4 separate regions of the Homo sapiens genome follow, and regions 2, 3 and 4 are each reported to be linked to region 1. Evidence: microRNA targets listed by miRTarBase, many of them from high-throughput screens and not tested one by one. Region 1 holds a microRNA gene; each other region holds the end of a gene's coding sequence.

What was found. Region 1 holds the annotated microRNA hsa-miR-4453 (GAGCUUGGUCUGUAGCGGUU, at 3,534-3,553, opposite strand). A microRNA usually pairs through its seed, bases 2 to 8, with sites in the 3' UTR of a target mRNA and lowers its output. Matches are read on the target gene's strand: a 7mer-m8 pairs with bases 2 to 8, a 7mer-A1 pairs with bases 2 to 7 and ends in A, and an 8mer does both.
Region 2: miRTarBase lists MCM9 as a target of hsa-miR-4453. The part of its 3' UTR that is shown has no 7-base or 8-base seed match.
Region 3: the mRNA of ZNF264 is a reported target of hsa-miR-4453. The part of its 3' UTR that is shown has no 7-base or 8-base seed match.
Region 4: miRTarBase lists CLPX as a target of hsa-miR-4453. Seed matches in the 3' UTR shown: 7mer-m8 at 3,680-3,686.

What each region holds. Positions count from the first base shown.
Region 1 is chr4:152,534,985-152,539,984 of GRCh38, reverse strand. It overlaps MIR4453 (microRNA 4453), which reads right to left and starts at 3,557; the gene lies at 3,469-3,557. FBXW7 (F-box and WD repeat domain containing 7) reads left to right here and starts at 3,893. Exons shown (of 14, transcript NM_001349798.2): 1 at 3,893-4,858; 2 at 4,952-5,000. MIR4453HG (MIR4453 host gene) reads right to left here and starts at 3,721. Exons shown (of 1, transcript NR_033797.2): 1 at 722-3,721. RefSeq lists enhancers at 3,598-3,957, 3,663-4,198 and a silencer at 4,068-4,857.
Region 2 is chr6:118,810,412-118,815,615 of GRCh38, reverse strand. MCM9 (minichromosome maintenance 9 homologous recombination repair factor) reads left to right here. Exons shown (of 14, transcript NM_017696.3): 14 at 1-2,161. The coding sequence ends at 792. Among named protein-coding and RNA genes, the nearest start is that of ASF1A, 81 kb to the left of the region's middle.
Region 3 is chr19:57,212,346-57,217,549 of GRCh38, reverse strand. ZNF264 (zinc finger protein 264) reads right to left here. Exons shown (of 4, transcript NM_003417.5): 4 at 1-5,204. The coding sequence ends at 4,569. Among named protein-coding and RNA genes, the nearest start is that of AURKC, 16 kb to the left of the region's middle.
Region 4 is chr15:65,146,151-65,151,354 of GRCh38, forward strand. CLPX (caseinolytic mitochondrial matrix peptidase chaperone subunit X) reads right to left here. Exons shown (of 14, transcript NM_006660.5): 14 at 2,069-4,763. The coding sequence ends at 4,673. Among named protein-coding and RNA genes, the nearest start is that of PDCD7, 15 kb to the left of the region's middle.

The DNA of each region.
Region 1 (5,000 bases):
GGCCTTTTGGGGAGCCCAGACCTGGGAGCTCCCCAAGCCAACACTGTGACTCCCTCTTTGGGTCCCTGCAGTTCCTGGCGTCTCCAAGCTTCCGGGTGCCAATGTGTTCCCTGGTGCCAGCTGTGGAAGCTGCTTGCAGTATGCCTGGTCCAGCCACAGCCTTGCAGAGAGCTGGTGCATCTGGAGCTGCCCGCCCCACTGCAGCAGCTGGTGTGTCTGACTGCGCAGTAGCCAGACCTCACGCTCGCTCACACATGCCTTGCCACTCCACGCCGTACTTGCCCTTGGCAGGTGTGGGATCCAGGCCGGTAGCATAAGCTGAGCACAGCCTGCCAGGCCAAGTAGGTGGAATGAGCCCAGTGGGCCTGAGCAAGACTTGTGCAAAGGCGCCACAGGCTACAGAGGTTTCTGGCCAGAAAAGCGACACCCTAAACATCCCATAACATTACTTTACCTGTTCAAATGTGGACTATGAAAGGATATTGAAAAGTTGGGCATCTCAGAGACTTAGACATTGAAAAGATACTAACGCGCCACAAAAATGTAAATCCAAATAGCTAGTTGTATACAAGAAGGTCCTCAACAGCATCAGTAATCAGAGAAATGACAGTTAAAACCACAATGATATATTACCATACACCCACCAGACTGGCAAAACCAAAAAGACCAATAATGTCAAGTGTTGTGAAGGTGTGGAGCAATGGGACTCATATATACCTAGTGTGACTGTGTAACCCTCTAGAAAAGAACTTGGCATTATTTATTCAAGTTTATGATACATATTACACTCCCAGGTATATGTTATACAGAAACTGACGTAGATGTGATGGAATACATATATGAAGAATGTTCACATTAGCATTTATAACAATCCTAAACTGGAAACAACCCAGATGTCCATCAGCAATAGAATGGCTAAACATATTGTCACATATTGTTATAATGGGACACTGTAATATGCAGCAATGAAAATGCACAAATTACAGCTATAGGAACAACCTGAACAACATATGAATTAAAAACAATGTTGAGCAAAAGCAGCAAGAACAACAGATTACATATTATATTGTTCCAGTTACATAAAGTTCAAAAGAAAGAGTGAGACTAAACAATATATTGTTTAGGGATGCATGCTTGCGACAAAGCGACAAAGAAAAGCAGGGAAATGATTATCACAAATGTTAGAATAATGACTACACTTAGGAGGGAGGGAAAGAGTTGTGTTCGGGAAGGTCATGGCAGGGAGGGGAACTTCTGAGTTGCTGGAAATATTCCATTTCTTGACCTGGTTGATTGGTTACATGGTGGTTTCCTTTATAATCACTTATACTATATAATTGCTTTATGTATTTAAACTATATTTCACAATAAAAATGTTAAAATTAATATAGATAGTATTTCTGGAAAGCAAAATTTTGCCAGATAATTTAGCTTACACAATCTTTGACAGTAAAAGCCACTGATATGGAATAACGAAACACTGATTAGTTTCTTGTAAGAGCTCACTTTCAAGTGTAGAGGTCAAAAACCTTATAAGAGTCTCCGTTTTTCTATATTTTAACACAGTATTTAGATCCTTATCTTAAATTGATGAACCAGGGAAGTAACTATTAGCTAAAACTTCAGATTTTTTGGAATTTTTAATTAACTAGCTGTTTTCTCCTCTGGATTAATAAGCAATACAAGGAACTAAAGAGATGCAGACCAAGTTGGAAATGTATGAACTTCCTTCTCTCCAGTCTCCAGTTCCAGCTGTTTCCTCCTGTTATCAAGCTGGGTGCTGAGGTGGGTATCTAGCCCAGTAAGCTTAGTGTGCTGTTATTAAATACTTTCTAAGTAAGTGGCTCAGGCTCTCCTGAGTGCCCTTCTGTTCCTCAGCACTGAGGTTGTAAGGTGGAGCCACTGACAATGAAAACAGAAGATCACGCTGCTGAAAAACCCTATGTGGTACACACTTAACTGGAGGTGTTCTCTGCTGGGCTGCAGAACTCTGATGTTTGCACTCTTTTCCTTCAAAGCCTACAAAGGTTAAACTCTCTGAGGTGTTTAGCTTCACAAAATCCCCTAAATCTGTGTGTTTTACTCCTTTAATTTCCACCATTCCCCTGTTGTAAGATAGGAAGAGGGGGAAAAACAAAAAATATTTATTTTGTAGCCATGTGAGACCATCACTTGTTGGTCTGATTACCTGTGAGTCTTATTTGGAAGGCTGTAGCAGGGGATTGGTCACGTAAAGACAGAAAAATCCAGGGTAATTTAAGCAGGATATTTAACCTGGCTCTTGGAACTTCAGGTCAAGGGCAGTAGGGTCAGGTGCTAGTCTGTGAGTCTCTCCTTGGTTTTGCCACATCCTCCTTTGCCCCTCTCACCACCTTTCCCGCAGCATTTTAATGAACACGAGCCCTTGGATTTACCCAGTTAAAAGTTTCCTTAGTTTACTGTTTGCAGATGGTAGTGGCAGTAGTGGGAGAAACCCAGAGCTTCCCACATTTGTCTATAATACACTTGCTCCTACCTTACCCCCTCCTCCAGGTGGAAAGACTTGTAAAATCCATTACTACTGCTTCCCAAGGAGGTAGAGTGTACTAGGGTCCAGGGACAGAATTGTGGAATCTGCTTTCATCATTGCTGCTGCTTTAATCTTTTTCTCATACTATTCACTGAAGACAGATTTCTGAGGATTCTGGTCCTTTTATCTTAAATTTGTTTTCCTAGAGAACTACACTTTAAACTTCATGAGTTTCTACTTAACTTTCCTTTCCAGGATAACATCTGTAGGAAAAGCTGCATAATAGTAATAACACTTATTTTAGAAAGAAAATAACCTTTGAGTCAGACCTGAAACAGGCCAACATTTCTTGATGACAACGTACACTGATGAACCAAGACCAGAAGCTCTCGAAAGCTCCAAACCGTAAGAAAGAACCATTCGTAAAAGTGAGGGACTATTAAATTCTTCCCCTGACAGTCAAAAATCCTTCAGCAATCTCCCAGAGGATGGCTCCCTTCCAATCCTCCCTTCCCGCCGCCCTAACAATCTGCGCGAGGATGGGTCCCTTCCCTTGCTCGGCATTTCGTCTCCTTTTCCACTAAAGACTCAGGTTGTGACTCTGTACTCAAGCCGCACCCCTGTTTCCTTTCATGGCTAGGGGGAGGGGAGGAATGTATTACAACTCATTTTTACAATGCACTGCAGTTTACAAAGCGCTTGCACTTCCACCATATCCTCTGAGCTTCACGAGTGCCACGTGAGAGAGGCATTCATTCATTCATTCATTCATCAAACATTTGCTCGGCCCGACCACACGTTATCCAACGCTGGGTCTCACCCCACGCCACGGGAAGGGTGGGGCGCTCTCTCCCTGGAGCAGGTGCAGATCAGGCTGTAGGGTAACTCCTCGATCAGTCCGGCTTTTCGAGGGTCTGTTTGGGGCCAAATGCCTCACCTTCGGGTGGTGCGCGCAGCTGCCTGAAGACGCGGCCTGGGCCTCCTCCTTCCTCCCAAAGGAGCAGTCCCCACCTGCCCCGAAGGAAACCGCTACAGACCAAGCTCTCCAGGCCGCCCTCGGGTCAGGGGTAAGATCGGGCGGCAGCTTAGGCTCGACTCGGCTCCTCCCCTTCCTCTCTTCAGTTCTGACGCGGCCGTAGAGGCGGCAGCGGCGGTGGCGGCTGCGAGTCCCGCGGCCCGAGGCGCACCCACCCGCTCGCCGATCCCCACTTCCTCTTCCCTTGGAGCGTCATCAGAGCGCGCCAGAGGCGCCCAGGGCGGGGTGGCTGGAAGGGGGAAAAAGGCCAGCGGAGGAAGCCTCAGAGCGGAAAGAAGAGGGAGGGGGAAGAGAGCGGTTGCTAGGTGACTTGCGTCATCGGCAGGCGCCGCTCTCCTCCCGCCCCTCTCTCTGGAGTGAGGCGAGAGCCCCGCACAGAGCGAGGGAGACAGCGAGCTGAGCTCCGGGCGCTGCCGCTGCCGCTGCCGCCGCCGCCGCCGCTGAGACTGAGAGCGAAGGAGCATCCGAGAGATCCAGTCCCCCTGCACTGGCCGCCGCCGAGACCTTCGCTCTCACCTGGGCCAGCGGGAGCCGCGGCCGCACTCCTTTCCCCCCCTCACCTTCCCGGCCGGCAGCGGCGGCTGCACACGCCGGAGCCGGAGCCAGAGCCGGAGCCCGAGCCTGAGCCGGAGCCGGCGGCTTGGGGGGCAGGGAGGCGGCTACCACGGGCCGGGAGTGGGTAGCTGCTCCGCGGTGAGAGAACGCTGAGGAGGCGCCAGAGCTTCTGCCTCGTCCCGTGGGGCGTGGGGCGAGACCCCCAAGGTGTAGGGAGGGGGGTCCCAGCCGCAGCGACACATGCGGGAGCCGGGAGCGGGGGCGGCGCCGAGCGGAGCCGGCCGGGTCCCTCGCCTTGCCGCCGACTCGGCCACCCGCCCGGGGCCGTAGCATCTTGCCCCGGAGTGTATGAACCGGGGCCCCAACCAAGCTCGGCAACCACCCCCCGGCCGGGGGGGCGGGGACCCCGATGTGAAGCGGCGGCTGGGGCGGCGGAGAGAACAGGACCGACGCCGCCGTCCTTTCCTCACCTTCCCCCTCCCCTCAGCCCCCTCCGGGGGTCTTCTCCCTTGGCCAGTCGCCGGCCCCCCGGCTCCTTGGCTGGACTCCGGGAGGAGTTCCTAGAGCCCCCCTCCCCCGCCCCAGTCCCGAGGGCGGCGGGGCCGGGGGGGACCCGGGGGGCCGGCCGCAGCCTCCACCCAGAGGAAACTTTACAAAAACAAAATCCGGAGTCTCCCAAACCTGACTGTCCCGGGAGAAGTGGCCCTGGACGGGCAGAAGCCGCAGCCTGAAAAGACCCAGGAAGAGGAAAAGAGGAGGTAAGCGGGGCCGCCGCCTCCCCTCCCCTGGCAGCGCGGAAGAGACCCGGGTTGCCGCCTGGTTTAGCGACACGAGCACCGCTTCTTCCTCAGTACCGCGCCGGAGCCTTCCGCAGCTGCCGCTTCAGTCCGAAGGAGGAAG
Region 2 (5,204 bases), not on the chromosome of region 1:
GTACATAGCCCAGACAGAATGCTGGACTCACCCAAAAGAAAGAGACCGAAATCCCTTGCGCAAGTGGAAGAGCCTGCAATTGAAAATGTTAAGCCTCCAGGTTCCCCTGTGGCCAAACTGGCAAAATTTACTTTCAAGCAGAAGTCAAAACTGATCCACTCCTTTGAAGATCACAGCCATGTGTCACCTGGTGCAACTAAAATAGCAGTTCATAGTCCTAAAATTTCCCAGCGTAGAACAAGAAGAGACGCAGCCTTGCCGGTGAAGCGTCCAGGAAAGTTAACATCTACCCCAGGAAACCAGATCTCCAGTCAGCCACAGGGTGAGACAAAGGAGGTGTCGCAGCAGCCACCAGAGAAACACGGACCAAGAGAGAAGGTGATGTGTGCCCCTGAGAAGAGGATTATTCAGCCTGAATTAGAGCTTGGGAACGAGACTGGGTGTGCTCATCTTACTTGTGAGGGAGACAAAAAGGAAGAGGTTTCAGGCAGTAATAAAAGCGGCAAGGTTCATGCCTGCACATTAGCCAGATTGGCAAACTTCTGCTTTACTCCCCCATCGGAATCCAAATCAAAATCCCCTCCTCCTGAAAGGAAGAACCGAGGTGAGAGAGGCCCAAGCTCCCCTCCTACAACCACAGCTCCAATGCGTGTCAGTAAAAGGAAATCTTTTCAGCTCCGTGGGTCCACCGAGAAACTGATTGTTTCCAAAGAATCCCTCTTCACTTTACCAGAACTAGGTGATGAAGCATTTGATTGTGACTGGGATGAAGAGATGAGAAAAAAGTCATAGTTGGGAAAAGCTTTCTGGTCAAATCTCACCTTCTTCAACTCCACAGAGGACCTTCAGGATATCAATATGGTATTTATAAATGTATAGAACAATTGGCCATATTGAGGATCACTCTGAATACTGGCTCCCCCTTAAGGCTTTCTAATTTCAGGTTAATCTTCATGACTTAAAAAGTTGTATAATCAGTTGAGGTCAGTGTGATACCAGCAGCTGAGCTGAATTAATTATGTTGTGCTTAATTTTACAAATGGAGTACTTGTATTCCTGTTCCTGAAGCTGTTTCTGTTTTTTGTTTTGTTTTGTTTTTAAGGGGGAGAGGTTCTTCCCTAGATTAATTTCTTCTTTCATTCACTCAGGAACAAATGTCAAGAAGGTAGCACTCATAAATCTAACAAGGCAGATGAACTCTTTTCTACTTTTTTTTTTTTTTTTTGTATTTTCACCTGGAATGGGCTAAGTACAGTGAATATAATCACTTGGATGATTTGCCAAAATCAGACTATTTTTCTAGTATTATTTTTGTATTGATTTGTGTGGATCAGGTTAAATGTGACTAATGCTTTTCTTTCTTTGAGAGGTATCCTTACAATTCCATGATGTTCTTAGAGATCTGGCCACTGGTCAAACAGTACCTTTCTGAAGTACTGACCTTCTGAGTTGTCCTTTCTTTCTTGAGCCAACATTTTGTACTTCAGATTCTTTTTTCTCTTGGGGGCCTACCTTCAACCAAGTAAAATACTGTGATTAGAAGAAGAGAGAGTATGAGCCAGGCACAGTGACTCACTCCTGTAGTCCTAGCTACTCGGGGAGGCTGAGGCAGGATGATTGCTTAAGCCCAGGAGTTCGGGGTTACAGTGAGCTGTGGTCACACCACTGTATTCCAGCCTGGGTGACAGAGTGAGATCCTGTCTCTAAAAATAAAATAAATGAAGAAGAGAGACTATGTGGTAGTCTCAATCAAACATCATGTCTCATCTACCCAGCTGGTTAATATGGAAATGTGATTCCTACTAAGTTGTGATTCACTTGTCTTTAAAACCAAGGAAATTATATACTGTTTTTGGTCAGAATAGATAACCTCAAGCTTTGTCTTTCTATGTGCTTTTAAAATCACTTATTCCTTTGGATTCTAATAAGGGTTATTAGGATTCAGTAATTATGGACTTTCTCTTCTGAAGTGTGAATTTGTAAACTGATTGTTTAATTGTCAGAGGGACTTTTGGACATAGAATACTCAAAACTATATGTATTTTGTTTAATTTTCACTTCATTCAATTCACGCATTGAAAACAAATTTAGAAAATCCAATTTTTCTTAAGCATTTAAACGTTCTAAAATTCACTAATAAAATTTTCTGAAAAAATTTAAACTGTGAGTACAAATTTAGTGTGGCTGAGTCTTGAAATGATTGGCCATAATGAGTACCATTCTCTGAAGTTTGAAACACCTTAAACAGCTGATAAAAGACATATATAAACAATGATTATAAAATTTATTATTTCTGTACCTGTTTAATAATTTACCAGTATACTATGATTCTTAATATATTCCTAATCTTTCAGTTTTATTGCTTTCCTGGGTTTCAGTGTTCTTACCAGAACTAAAGGAAAAGGAATGGAAGTGGGTTTTTGACCAGCTGAATCTTGATCTGGGCGTGGTCTGATTATTTAGATGAGGATGACTCAAACCTAAGCCACAGTGTGGAGCTGACTTTTTTTAATGGTAAATTTTTAAGTCCATGTCTTATGAATTTTTGTCTTTGAAACTTGGTATCTTTTGCAGTAATTATGTATTAGGTTTTGCATGGCTGACAGTACCTAACCTATTGGCATGTCATTAGGGTATTTTGATCTGTTATGTTATTTAAAATATTTGTATTCTTTATTGGGACTTTTGGTTTTAGAGGTTTCATTTTTAGTAATGAGAGATTTAATTTTCATAGTTACCTTGTCTCTTTAGGACACTGAGTAATTCATATTTTAAATTACATGTTGAATTGTCTTTCTTCCTTGGTCATTGTGTATGACTGCCAATGCCACCTTCTACCTGGTTATAATTTGTGCCCACCATGCATCCTATTATTTTGTGCTAATCAATCCACTTTCCATTTTAGTACCTTCTGTCAAGATTTGGCCAAATTACCACTTCCATATGTTTATTCTTTGGTACTTACCCAGATAGAAATAACTACATACCTAAATATTTTAAACAGACATAATTATTAGAAGAAATAAAATACCCAATACATATTGAATATCCCTTATCTGAAATGGTTAGGCCTGGAAATGTTTTGGATTTTGGATTTTTTTGGATTTTGGAATATTTGCACTATACCTATACTTACTGGTTGAGCATCCCAAATCTGAAAATCCAAAATCCAGAATGCCCCAGTGAGCATTTCCTTTGAGCATCATGTCAGTACTCACAAAGTTTTGGATTTGGGATTTTTCGATTAGGGATATTCAACCTGTATAAACATCCTTCTTACTAAAATGTTAAACTTCTATCACAGACTGTTATGTGTTATAACTGCCTCATTGTGCTTATATTTAATGCTCAGTCTCACAGCTTGGTCAGAGTCCCTTTATGTTGACCTGAATGTCCTTTCATCATTCTGATGCTTCTATAAAAGCATCCATGCTATCCGAAAACAACAGGATGTTCCATACCCATTTTGATTTCTTCATGCTCCATGTCATGGAGTCAGCTATCCCCAAGGTACTCTGTTTCCTTTGAAGGTCAGTAGTGTTAGAGACCAAACTCTAGGCCTCAGGGTCACCTGTTCAGGAGAGTCACTAATGGGCAAAAGTTCTTCCACTGCTGTTGGGTCAAGTTTAGTAGGTTCAGAGCTGGAAAGTGTTTTGATGTCCTGAGGTCATGTTTTATCCTGCTGTGTCCTACTTTTGTTATAGACGTGATTTCATGATGACTAAAACTTTCTCTTGTATGGTCTTTAATGTGTGTATCAAGGAAGCACATGGATTGTCTTGGGGGAATATGAACAGTCTCACAGGTCACATTTCTGTTCAATAAAGAGAGGTGTAAAAAATAACCTTTGGCCGGGTGCGGTGGCTCACACCTGTAATCCCTGCAGTTTGGGAAGCTGAGGTGGGTGGATCACTTGAGGTAAGGAGTTCAAGACCAGTCTGGCCAACATGGTGAAACCCCGTCTCTACTAAAAATACAAAAATTAGCTGGGTGTGGTGGTAGGCGCCTGTAATCCCAGCTACTCGGGAGGCTGAGGCAGGAGAATCACTTGAACCTGGGAGGCGGAGGTTGCAGTGAGCCAAGATCATGCCACTGCACTCCAGCCTGGGTGACAGAGTAAGACCCTGTCTCACAAACAAACAAACAAAAAACCTTTAATTCTGAATCAAGTTGCCAAAATATTTTGATTTCAGTCCCAGTGTACTTCTTGAAAACATTTTAATAATGTAAAATTATCTAAACACAATAAAAACTATACTTAATTTTATCTGTGAGAGGGCTAAACCAGAATTTAAATTCTATTGTAACTATATGAGATAATGGAATTTTCTGATACTGTAAAAGATTAATCTTCAGTGCATATGTAGTATTCTAAAATGTATAATAGGAATTTTATTGTAATTTTTGGTGTCTTATAGAAATATGAGCAAAACAAACATATTATTCTGATATCTTTAACTCTGTGGCTTAATGCAAATTTTAAACTTTTTTGAAGGTATACCAAAACATTAAACATTTATTCTTGGTTGACAAATTTTAATTCTAACAAACTTACACATTCTGTAGGCATACTTGATTTCTGTTCCTTCTCCATGTGCTAAACCTTCTGCTTAACGGGTGGAATGCTAGAGAAAATCCTAGGTTAACTCAGAGAGCTTGCCTTTAGCCAGTTCACAATATTTAGGAGTTCAGAAACTATCCAACCTTGAATTCTAGGTCACTAGAGACTTCCTGGGACCTGGTGAACCTTTCAGATGCAACTTACCAAACAACCAGTTTCCAAACCTATTAACATCACAATGTAGGAAGCTAAGCCAGTGCTTCTTCCTCAGTGTTCAAAACCATCCTCTGAGCTTGCTTTCCTTATTAACATTCAAGAAAGATAAAAGCGCCCTGGCTCACATTAGTACCCACTCCAATTGGGGTGTTCCTGTCAGTGTTCTGTCTTGCATGTGACATAGCCCCCCAGGTATACGGGGAGCCATTACCCACACACATCCTCTTCACTGTCACTCAGAGGACATGCACAGGAAGTGGTGGCAACCGCCCCTTATGACACACTCAGTAGTTCTTGTATCTGTTCCACTGCCACATCTCTTCCTTAAAGGCTTGAAAATGCATCTAAGGGTAATATTTGTAATAAAAGTGAACTTGACAGATATTAAACTAAATTTTAAAAAATTGTGTCTGTGAATAGTCCGGTG
Region 3 (5,204 bases), not on the chromosome of region 1:
CATTACTAGGGAAGCTGAGGCAGTTAATTGCTTGAACCCGGGAGGCAGAGGTTGCAGAGAGCCGAGATCGCATCACAGCACTCCAGCGTGGGTGACAGAGTGAGACTTGGTCTCAAAAAAAAGGAAAAGAAAAATTACATCTTGCAACATAGCGCTCAATTTTTGAAGAGGAATTACTATTACTTAAGATAGTTACATTAGTAGGTAAGCTAAAGGAACCTAATGGAAGTAAAGTGCTAAATTGCTGATAACTTATTAAACTGTCATAAGTTATATATTTACACTGTAATAGTAGAACAATCACTAAAAAATGCAGATATATACAGACAGTCCCTGACTTAGGATGGTTCGACTTACTACTTGACTTTACAATGGTGCGAATGCGACATGCATTCAGTAGAAACCACACTTGAATTTTTATTTAAAATTCTTTGCAGTAACTTTATTATAAAGTAGGCCTTGTGTTAGATGATTTTGCCCAACTGCAGGCTAATGTAAATTTTCTGAGCATTCTGAAGGCAAGATCGGCTATGATGTTCAGCAGGGTAGGTGTATTAAATGCATATTTGACATAGTATTTTCAACTTGCAATGGGTTTATTGTGACATAACCCCATCATAAGTCAAGGAGGATCTATACTAAAAAACACTACATATGTATCAAATCAAATTATTAAAAAAAAAAAAGGTGAAGTAACCTATAGGAAGACTAGTAAACAACCCCAAATAACAGAGGAACAATAAAAAAGAACACAAAAATCATTTAAGGGCACACTTAAGCCCTAAAATATCAATAATTATTTTAATGTAAATCATTTCAACATACCAATTAAGAGAGACATATGCAGAATGAATAAAAAAAGCATGGCCTGAGTATATGCTGTTCAAAGAAACTGACTTCATAAGTAATGATACAGGTAAGCTTTAAAATAAAATGAAGAAATATTAACCATGCAAACATTAATCAAAATATGCAGGAGTCACTATGAGAACATCAGGTAAAGTATTGACAAGACTATTAAAAGGCAAAAAAATGACATCACATAATGACAGAAGAGTCAATTCACCACAAAGACTTGGCAAACCTACATGTATATGTACCAAACAATACAGCTTTGAACTTTGCAAACAAAAAGTGATAGAACTTGAAAGAGCAACACACTTCCACAATCATGTTCAGGACTTTTTGTTGTTGTTGTTGAGACAGAGTCTCGCTCTGTTGCCCAGGCTGGAGTGCAGTGGTGAGATCTCAGCTCACTGCAACCTCTGCCTCCCACGTTCAACTGATCCTCCTGCCTCAGCCCCCCAGCAGCTGGGATTACAGGCACACGCCACCATGCCTGGCTAATTTTTGTATTTTTAGTAGACAGGGTTTTGCCATGTTGGCCAGGCTGGTCTCGAACTCCTGGCCTCAGGTGATCCACCTGCCTTAGTGGTCTCAAAGTGCTAGGATTACAGGCGTGAGCCACTGCACCCGGCCTATGTTCAGGACTTCAACACCCCTCTCAGCAACTGACAGAAATGCTGGACAGAAAATCAGCAAGGACATAGCTGACTTGAATAACAATGAGCAGGATCATAGAGACATTTATAGAAACTCCACCCAGTAACAGCAGAACACCCATTCTTTTCAAGCAGCTATACGAAACAAGATAGACCCTATCCTGGGTCATAAAAAAATGTTAACACATTTAAACAGTCAGATCAAACATGGAACAAATTAGAAATCAGTAACAAATATGCCAAACACCAGAAAATTAAGCATACTATTAAATAATTCATGGCTAAGAGAGAATGTCTCAAAAAATAAAAACTATTAGAATTAAAATGTAATGAAAACATTAAAACTTGTGGGATCAAACCAATAGTGATATGAGGTAAATTTATACAATGTAATGCTTACATTAAAAAAGCAAAAAAATCTCAAATCAATAATCTAAAACCCCACCTTGAAAAGTTAGAAAGAGCCAAATACAACCAAAGCAAGTGGAATATAATACCGATCAGAGCAGAAATCAAAGAAATCAAGAATAGAGACAAATCATTAATATAAAGTGCTAGTTCTCTGAAGTGAGAGATGAAGCAAAAATTACATCTTTCAGCATGATGCGCAATAAAACTGATAAATGTCTAAGAAGACTCAATCATAAAATGAGTATGCACATTTTAAATATTAAAAATAAAAAGAAGTGCAGATCCTGCTATCAAAAGAATAAGGGAGTGCTACAAATACAGATGAAATATTCCTTCAACAGGACAGACTATCAAAATTTATTACACAAGAAATAGATACTTCGAATAGTTCTACCTATCCAATAAAATAAATATGTAATTTAAAAGCCTCCAGAAGAAAAATCTCTGGCCCAATGGTTGACTAGAGGTCATCAAACATGACAAGAACAAATAACACCAATTCTACACAGTCTTCCAAAAATTAGAAGAGAACTCCTTCCAATTCATGTTGAAAGGTCAAGATCACCTAGACATCAAAACCACACATAAGACATTTAGAACATAAGAAACAAAAGAAAAAAGAACTACACATTATTAGCCAATAAATTAGAGGAATATTTCCTCAACAAAATACAAACAAAGGGAATGATGTCAAATGATATATAAAAACAATTATACTCTACAAACAAGTATGGTTTATTCTAAGGATGCAAGGCTGGCTCAATATTCAAAACTTGATCAAAGCAATACATTCCATCAATAGGATGTAGAAGGAAAATAGCATAATGACATCAACTGGTGGAGAAAAAGTACTGAACAAAATTCCACACTTATTCATAGCAACACAGAGTCTCAGAAAACTGGGAACAGAGGAAATTTTTTACCCTTATAGAGGACATATGTTTTATAAAACTTACATTATACTTCATGATGAAAAACTGAACATGCTGTGCACTGTGGCTCACGCCTGTAATCCCAGCACTTTGGGAGACCCAGGCAAGCAGGTTGCTTGAGCCCAGGAGTTCAAGACCAGCCTGGGCACCATGGTGAAACCCTGTCTCTACCAAAAAATACAAAAATTAGCTGGGACTGGTGGTGCATGCTTGTAGTACCAGCTACTGGGGGGTGGTGAGGGCTGAGGTGGGGGGATCACTTGAGCCCAGGAACTTAAGGCTATGGTGAGACAAGATCGTGCCACTGCACTCCAGCCTGGGTGACAGAGCGAGACCCTGTCTCAAACAAAAAACAAAAAAACAAAAAACTGAACATTGTCCCCCCTACTATCAGGAACCAGGTAAGGATGGCCTTTCTCACTATTCCTATTCAACGCTATAATGGAAGTCCCAGCTTGTGCAATGCAATAAGACAAACAAAAAGGAAATAAAAGGTATATTACAGGTAAGATGAAAGATAAAAAATGGTCTGTATTTGCAGATGACATTTCTATATAGAAAATTCCAAGGATTCTGTCGAAAGAAATAGCTAAAAATAATAAGTGAACTCAATAAGGTTGCAGGGTAGCAAAACAATGTCCAAAAATATTATATTTCTGTATACTACCAAAAATTGTGTGCAATTCAAAGTTCAAACATCAATGCCATTTACAATCACTCAAATTACACACACACACAAACAAAAAAGCACCCTAGGATGCAAATTCTAACAAAAATGCATAGGGATCTATACGCTGAAAATTTTTAACATTAATGAAATACTTTAAGGAATGCTTAACTATTATAAATTAAGAGGCCTACTCCTGCACTCATGAACTACAAGACCCAACATAGTAAAGATACCAATTCTTAACAGATTAATCCACAGACTTAACTCAATTTCTGTAAAAATCTGAACAAGACTGTTTTGTAAATAAGTACAAACTAATCCTAAAAATTATATGGAATGTCAAAGGAACTAGAAATGCTGTCGATTTTAAATAAGAGCAAAGAAGAATCACTTTACTCAATTTAAAAATTTACCACTGACATTTTGAGCTAAGTAATTTTTAAAAATTTAACAAATAAAAATTTACCATATGGCTACAATGATGACGTAAACCAAAAGACGGGCATCAAGACAAAAGCCTGAATGTTAACATGTGTATCCTTACTGACTTAAACGTGAGTATTTCATGGCTCAAGCCCCCTAAGTTGTCATAAAGTTATGCTTCTCAAGAGTAAGTACTATTGTGGAATACAGAAGATGTGCGATTAAAGTTTGCATACTTTTCCTAAACTAACTGTTCTGACACTGGATAGCAATAAATGTACATACAAGCACATAAAGGGTCAAGGTTCTTTACCTTGAAACATTTCCCTTCCCCCAAATACACTAAGAAATCCATGACAAAGCGCCATAGGCTTGGCAGAGAAGCCTGAAAAGATGTGTGCTTGCATTTCATTTTTTCTATGTCCCCTCCTCCTTTTAAAAATAATTCCTGAGATAAAATTGCACTGTAAACTAAGGAGAAAGATGCAGCTGAAGGTTCTCCTATGTGCACAATAACCACTGGGTCTCTCTCCAGGATAAATTATCAGATGGAGAATAAGGCTCTAGACTGAACGAATTTCTAATATGACTCTTCAGATGACAAGTAATATTCAGCAACAGAAGGTTTTCTCACAGTGAAGACACTTGTGGGGTTTCTCTTTGGTATGGTTGATCAGATGCAGAGGAAGATGTTTCCTCTGGCAAAATATTTGCCTCAGTGGTTACATTCAAAAAGTCCTTCCCTAAAAGAAGTTCTCGAAGGGTAACTGAGGTTTGTCCACTTGTAAAAGGTCTTCCCACATCTGTTACACTGATGGGATTTTTCCCAGTATGCATCCTTTGATGCTGAGTGAGGGACGAGCTGCGACTGAAGGCCTTTCCACATTCACTACATTTATAGGGCTTCTCTCCAGTGTGGATAATGGCATGTCGAATGAGGTTTGTGCTCCAGCAAAACGATTTCCCACACTCAACACATTCATAGGGCTTCTCTCCACTATGAATCCGCTTGTGCCTCGTGAGGCCCGACATGCGGGTGAAGGCCTTTCCACACTCCACGCACTCATAGGGCTTCTCTCCAGTGTGGATGCTGAAGTGGCGAATGAGGTCCTTCCGATTGCTAAAGGCTTTCCCACACTCTTTGCACTCGAAAGGCTTTTCTCCAGTGTGGGCCCTTTTATGCAAGATAAAAGTAGAGCAGTGGGTGAAGGCCTTTCCACATTCACTGCACACGAAGGGCTTCTCCCCAGTGTGAATCCGCTGGTG
Region 4 (5,204 bases), not on the chromosome of region 1:
TTGGACTATTAAATTTATAAATTTAAGGATAATAGACATTTTTATAATAACGAGTTTCCCCACTGAACACAGGATAACACTTTTAATCAGATTTGCAAAAATACCTACCCATTCACTTCTTCCACTTCCACTACTTTAGCCCAAGCCATCATCTTTTCCTTGTCCTCTTAGTCTGTTCTCTCACACTGTAACCAAGTATCACTTCTTTGTGCAAAACCTCCTGACAGCTTCTCATTTATGAGTCAAAGCCTGGAGCCAGGTACGGTGGCTCATGCCTGTAATCCCAACACTTTGGGAGGCCAATGTGGGAGGATGGCTTGAGCCCAGGAGTTCAAGGATGTTGTGATCCATGATAGTGCCAACTGCACTCCAGCCTGGGCGAGTGAGACCGCACCCTCCCCGCTCCCATCTCTTAAAAAGAAGAGTCAAATCTCAGAAGGGAATTGGAAAAATGCAAGACCAACTTTTAGTTGTGCTGCAGAAGAGAAGCAGCTGGGCAACAGGTGGAGAGGATTTGGGTTCAAGGAAGTTGTTTTGTTTGTATGCTGATGAGAACTAACCTCAAAAAGTGGAGGAAATTGTTGAACTAGGAGATAGAAGGGCAAGTGCTGAAGAAATGTTTTTAAGTAGGCCTCCAGTCACGTTTCCTTCCATTCATTTTCCTGAGCCTGCCCCCAACAATTTAAAAGGGACATCTGATCATGTTCAACTCCCCTGCTAAAACTTTCAATAACCCCCCACTACCTTCTGTAAAAACTTACAATTTAACCTGGCATACAAGACATTCCATTCTTTTTTGTTTTTTTGAAACAGAGTCTCGCTCTTGTCACCCAGGCTGGAGTGCAGTGGCGTGATCTCAACTCACTGCAACCTCCACCTCCCAGACTCAAGTGATCCTCTGTCCTCAGCCTCCTGAGTAGCTAGGATTACAGGTGCCCCCCACCATGCCCGGCTAATTTTTGTACTTTTAGTAGAGATGGGGTTTCATCACGTTTGGCCAGGCTGGTCTCGAACTCCTGACCTCAGGTGATCCACCCGCCTCATCCTCCCAAAGTGCTGGGATTACAGGCATGAGCCACCATGCCTGGCCATTCCATTATTTCTTTAAAAATGTATGGGGTACCAGATGTATGTAGCACTATGGTAGGTGCTGGTTATAGTTAACAAAACAGGCTGGGTCACCATCTTTGTGGAACTTATGGTGTAGTTGGAAAGATACGTAAATAAGCTTGGGAGATTTGCTATAGGACAGGAAATACTAAGCAGTGTTTGGATGCCACTGGGAATAATTCAGAAGGAAGGACACAGATACTATAGTAGAGACATGATCAAAAGAATTAAAGGCCTTGAGAAATGAGAGGGGATGATGAGACCCAGAGCATGTGGGGAGTGACTGAGTTTTGTAGGAGGGATACTTCAGTTGTAACTAGAGAGAAAGGTTGAGTGATGGAGTAGATAGATTTATAGATGGTGGGATGATGAATTCCATCAATGGTTTTTCAATGAAATGTGAAGCAAGATCCTTAGCTAGATGGAGAGGAGAATATTAAATGGTCATTTCAGAGTATTAACAAGAAGTTACAGTTGTTGCTTATTTCTTACCTCCTACAGCTTCCTAGTTGTTGTTTTACACTTCTGAGATTTTGATTTAGTTCTCATTATTCTTTTCTGGCAAATTTCTACTTGTTCTTCCAGACTTATCTAGGCCATCACTTTCTATGTCACCACACCTGGTACCTATCTCACTTCCACTATTAAAATACACTTTAGTTTGTATTTGTTTCCCCTACAAGACTAGTAAGATTCCTGAAAAACTTGGCCTGTGTCCCTAGTGTCAAGCGGGACATTTAAGTAAGGATTTTTGATAAATGTTTAACAGACATTGTCTGTGGAATCTACAGCTAGAATTTATCTGATATGGAAGTGCCAAGGATTAATCAATCCCTAGAATGAAGCAGCTCATATGACATCTGTGCCCTTTTAAAAATGGCACTGTTTGGCTGTGCTTGTTGTTGTCAATGCAGAGTGCTCCTGCACCATTGCTGTATGGACACACCACCACGTTGGCTTTCATTTAGTCTTTTTGTTTTATTCAAATGTCAAAATGTAAGTTCCAAGATACAAATTATGTTTGATTTAAAAACATCGACTATGCTTTGTTAACAACTTCCAAAGCCAAATGTAAGTTGTTGTGACTAAAATGCCTCCCCAGTACATTTCTGGAGGATTAACCTTAATATGTTTAGCAGCTAGTCTGATTTCCACTCTACAAAAAGGAAAATGATGCTATAAGGGAAAGATAATGAACAAAGTTATAATATGTAAGACTTCCTGGGAAGAACTTGAACCATTACTAGGGAGACCAAGGAGAGGTGTTTCTGTTCCATACTATAGCAACCAGCCTTAACACTCTGTAATACAAAGTGCATTTCTGGTCCTACCCAGCCATAAATACCATACATCCCTTTTATTAATTATATCAAAGAAAGCCCAACTCTTCATCAACAAGATTTAGAATTTCCTAATAGCTTTAGTTTTTCCCTAAAAAAAACTGTGTAAAAGGAAAGCTCGAGTCTATAAACCAAAAAAAAAAACCCACAAATATTTACATGTACTCTGATTTAAACAATTTCAAATGAGATTAAACTGAATGAATATAGAACTTGTACCACCATTATAGAAGGAAAGAAAAAAAGCTTAAAAGGTACCCAAATATTTTAATATTTATGGAATTAAATGATACAATTTTCATTAAGACCCCAAATATCCCACCACTTTTTAGCTTTGCTGTATAATGAAGGTTAGTAACTTATATGTTAGTGTGAACACATTTACTTTGGCTGATAGCAAAACATAGATTTTTTAAAATGTTCTAAGAAGCCAAAGAATTAGACCAAAATGTTCAGCACCAAAAAACAAAACAAAAAAACTAGCTCAATACTTCAGGTTAAATACACAATATCAAGAAATTTTATTTAGGTCAGCACATGGCTGTTACTATGACTGATACTGCATGCTATTTCTAGAATTAGATATGTATCTTTCTGGCTGGATGCGGTGGCTCATGCCCGTAATTCTAGCACTTTCAGAGGCCAAGGTGGCCGATTGCCTGAGCTCAGGAGAGACCAGCCTGGGCAACATGGCGAAACCCCGTCTCTACTAAAAATACAAAAAATTAGCCAGGTGTGGTGGTGCACGCCTGTAGTCCCAGCTACTCAGGAGGCTGAGGCATGAGTATCGCTTGAACCTGGGACTCAGAGGTTGCAGTGAGCCAAGATTGTGGCACTGTACTCCAGCCTGGGTGACACAGCGAGACTCTGTCTCAAAAAAATAAAATAAAATAGATATATAACTTTCTGAAGATTTAAGCCAGACTTCAATTCCATGTACTCACCCATAGTACTAAAATGGATTAAAGATGGTAAATAAGGCCGGGTGTGGTGGCTTACGCCTGCAATCCCAGCACTTTGGGAGGCTGAGGCCAGCAGATCACAAGGTCAGGAGTTACAGACTAGCCTGGCCAACAGGGTGAAACCCTGTCTCTACTAAAAATACAAAAATTAGCCAGGTGTGGTGGTGCGTGCCTATAATCCCAGCTACTTGGAAGGCTGAGGCAGGAAAATTGCTTGAACCTGGGAGGCGGAGGTTGCAGTGAGCCAAGATCGCACCACTGCACTTCAGCTTGGGACAGCGTGAGACTCCGCTCAATTAAAAAAAAAAAAAAAAAAAAGATGGTAAATAAATCAGACAACTTGGTAAGAAAATGGCCTTTTTTACAGAACCAATTGGGAAGTTAGTGTCATGCATTAGCAGATAAGACTAGGAATACAGCTAAACCAATTATCAAAATATAGTTCTTCAGGGTATTTTTCAATGAAATGTTTAACTACTTGAAAACTACCTGGTCCAATTTTTTGTTTTCGCCCTGAGACGGAGTCTCACTTTGTCGCCCAGGCTGGAGTGCAGTGGCACAACCTCAGCTCACTGTAAACTCTGCCCTCCGAGTTCAAGCGATTCTCCTGCCTCAGCCTCCCGAGTAGCTGGGATTACAGGCACCTGCCACGGCACCCAGCTAATTTTTCATATTTTTAGTAGAGATGGGGTTTCACCATCTTGGCCAGGCTGGTCTTGAACTCCTGACCTCGTGATCCACCCGCCTTGGCCTCCCAAAGTGCTGGGATTACAGGCGTGAGCCACCACGCCCGGCCTACCTGGTCCAATTTTTAAGATGAATAAAATTCCAATATTTTCAGAAACACATGTGGGTAAAAAAGGTAACACTAAAGAATGGTATCTCAATATTCAATTTTAAAGAATTTATTTTCCCATTTGTAGAGTAACATTATTGTAAAATCTACAGTTATCGCAATACCTGCATTGCTTAAAAGAATTCCTAAGAATTTTGTTAAAGCATATTTTTTTTAAAAAACTGAACCAAAATAATGTACATTTTATCTCTAAACATTGTGTCATTAAAGTCCATATAACATCTTCCGTAAAATCAATGTGATGTTACAATTATATACATGATCTGATTCTTCTCCTAAAGGCTTCTCTGACCATGTATGATATCCAAGATAGATCCAATGCCTTTAATATCAGACTGTAGAGACAATTATGATCCTAAACAAAAGAAGGAAAAGCTGTATATACAAGACAGCAATATGACAGTTTAGCTGTTTGCAGCATCTGCTTGGCGGGGCCATCCTTCTTCTTCAACTCCAGAGTCATACTCCTCTTCAGAGGATTCTTTTGTTGGAGCCCTACAATGAAAAGCCATGTTTGTTTTTTTAAAATAAAAAATGGAGGTAAACATGATCTTTAAAATCAAAACAGCAAAGTAACCTCTCCTAGCTAAGAAAGCCACGATAATAGAAAATATTAGGAGCACTTTTAATATTAAGACGGCTTAGGCCGGACACAGTGGCTCACATCTGTAATCCCAGCATTTTGGAAGGCCGAGGAGGGCTGATCACTTGAGGTCAGGAGTTCGAGACCTGCCTGGCCAACATGTTGAAACCCCATCTCTACTAAAAATACAAAAATTAGCCGGGTGTGGTGGCACACACCTGTAGTCCCAGCTACTCAGGAGGCTGAGGCAAGGGAATCGCTTGAACCCAGGAAGTGGAGGTTGCAGTAAGCCGAAATCATACCACTGCACTCCAGTCTGGGCGACAGAGCAAGACTGAGTCTCAAAAAAAAAA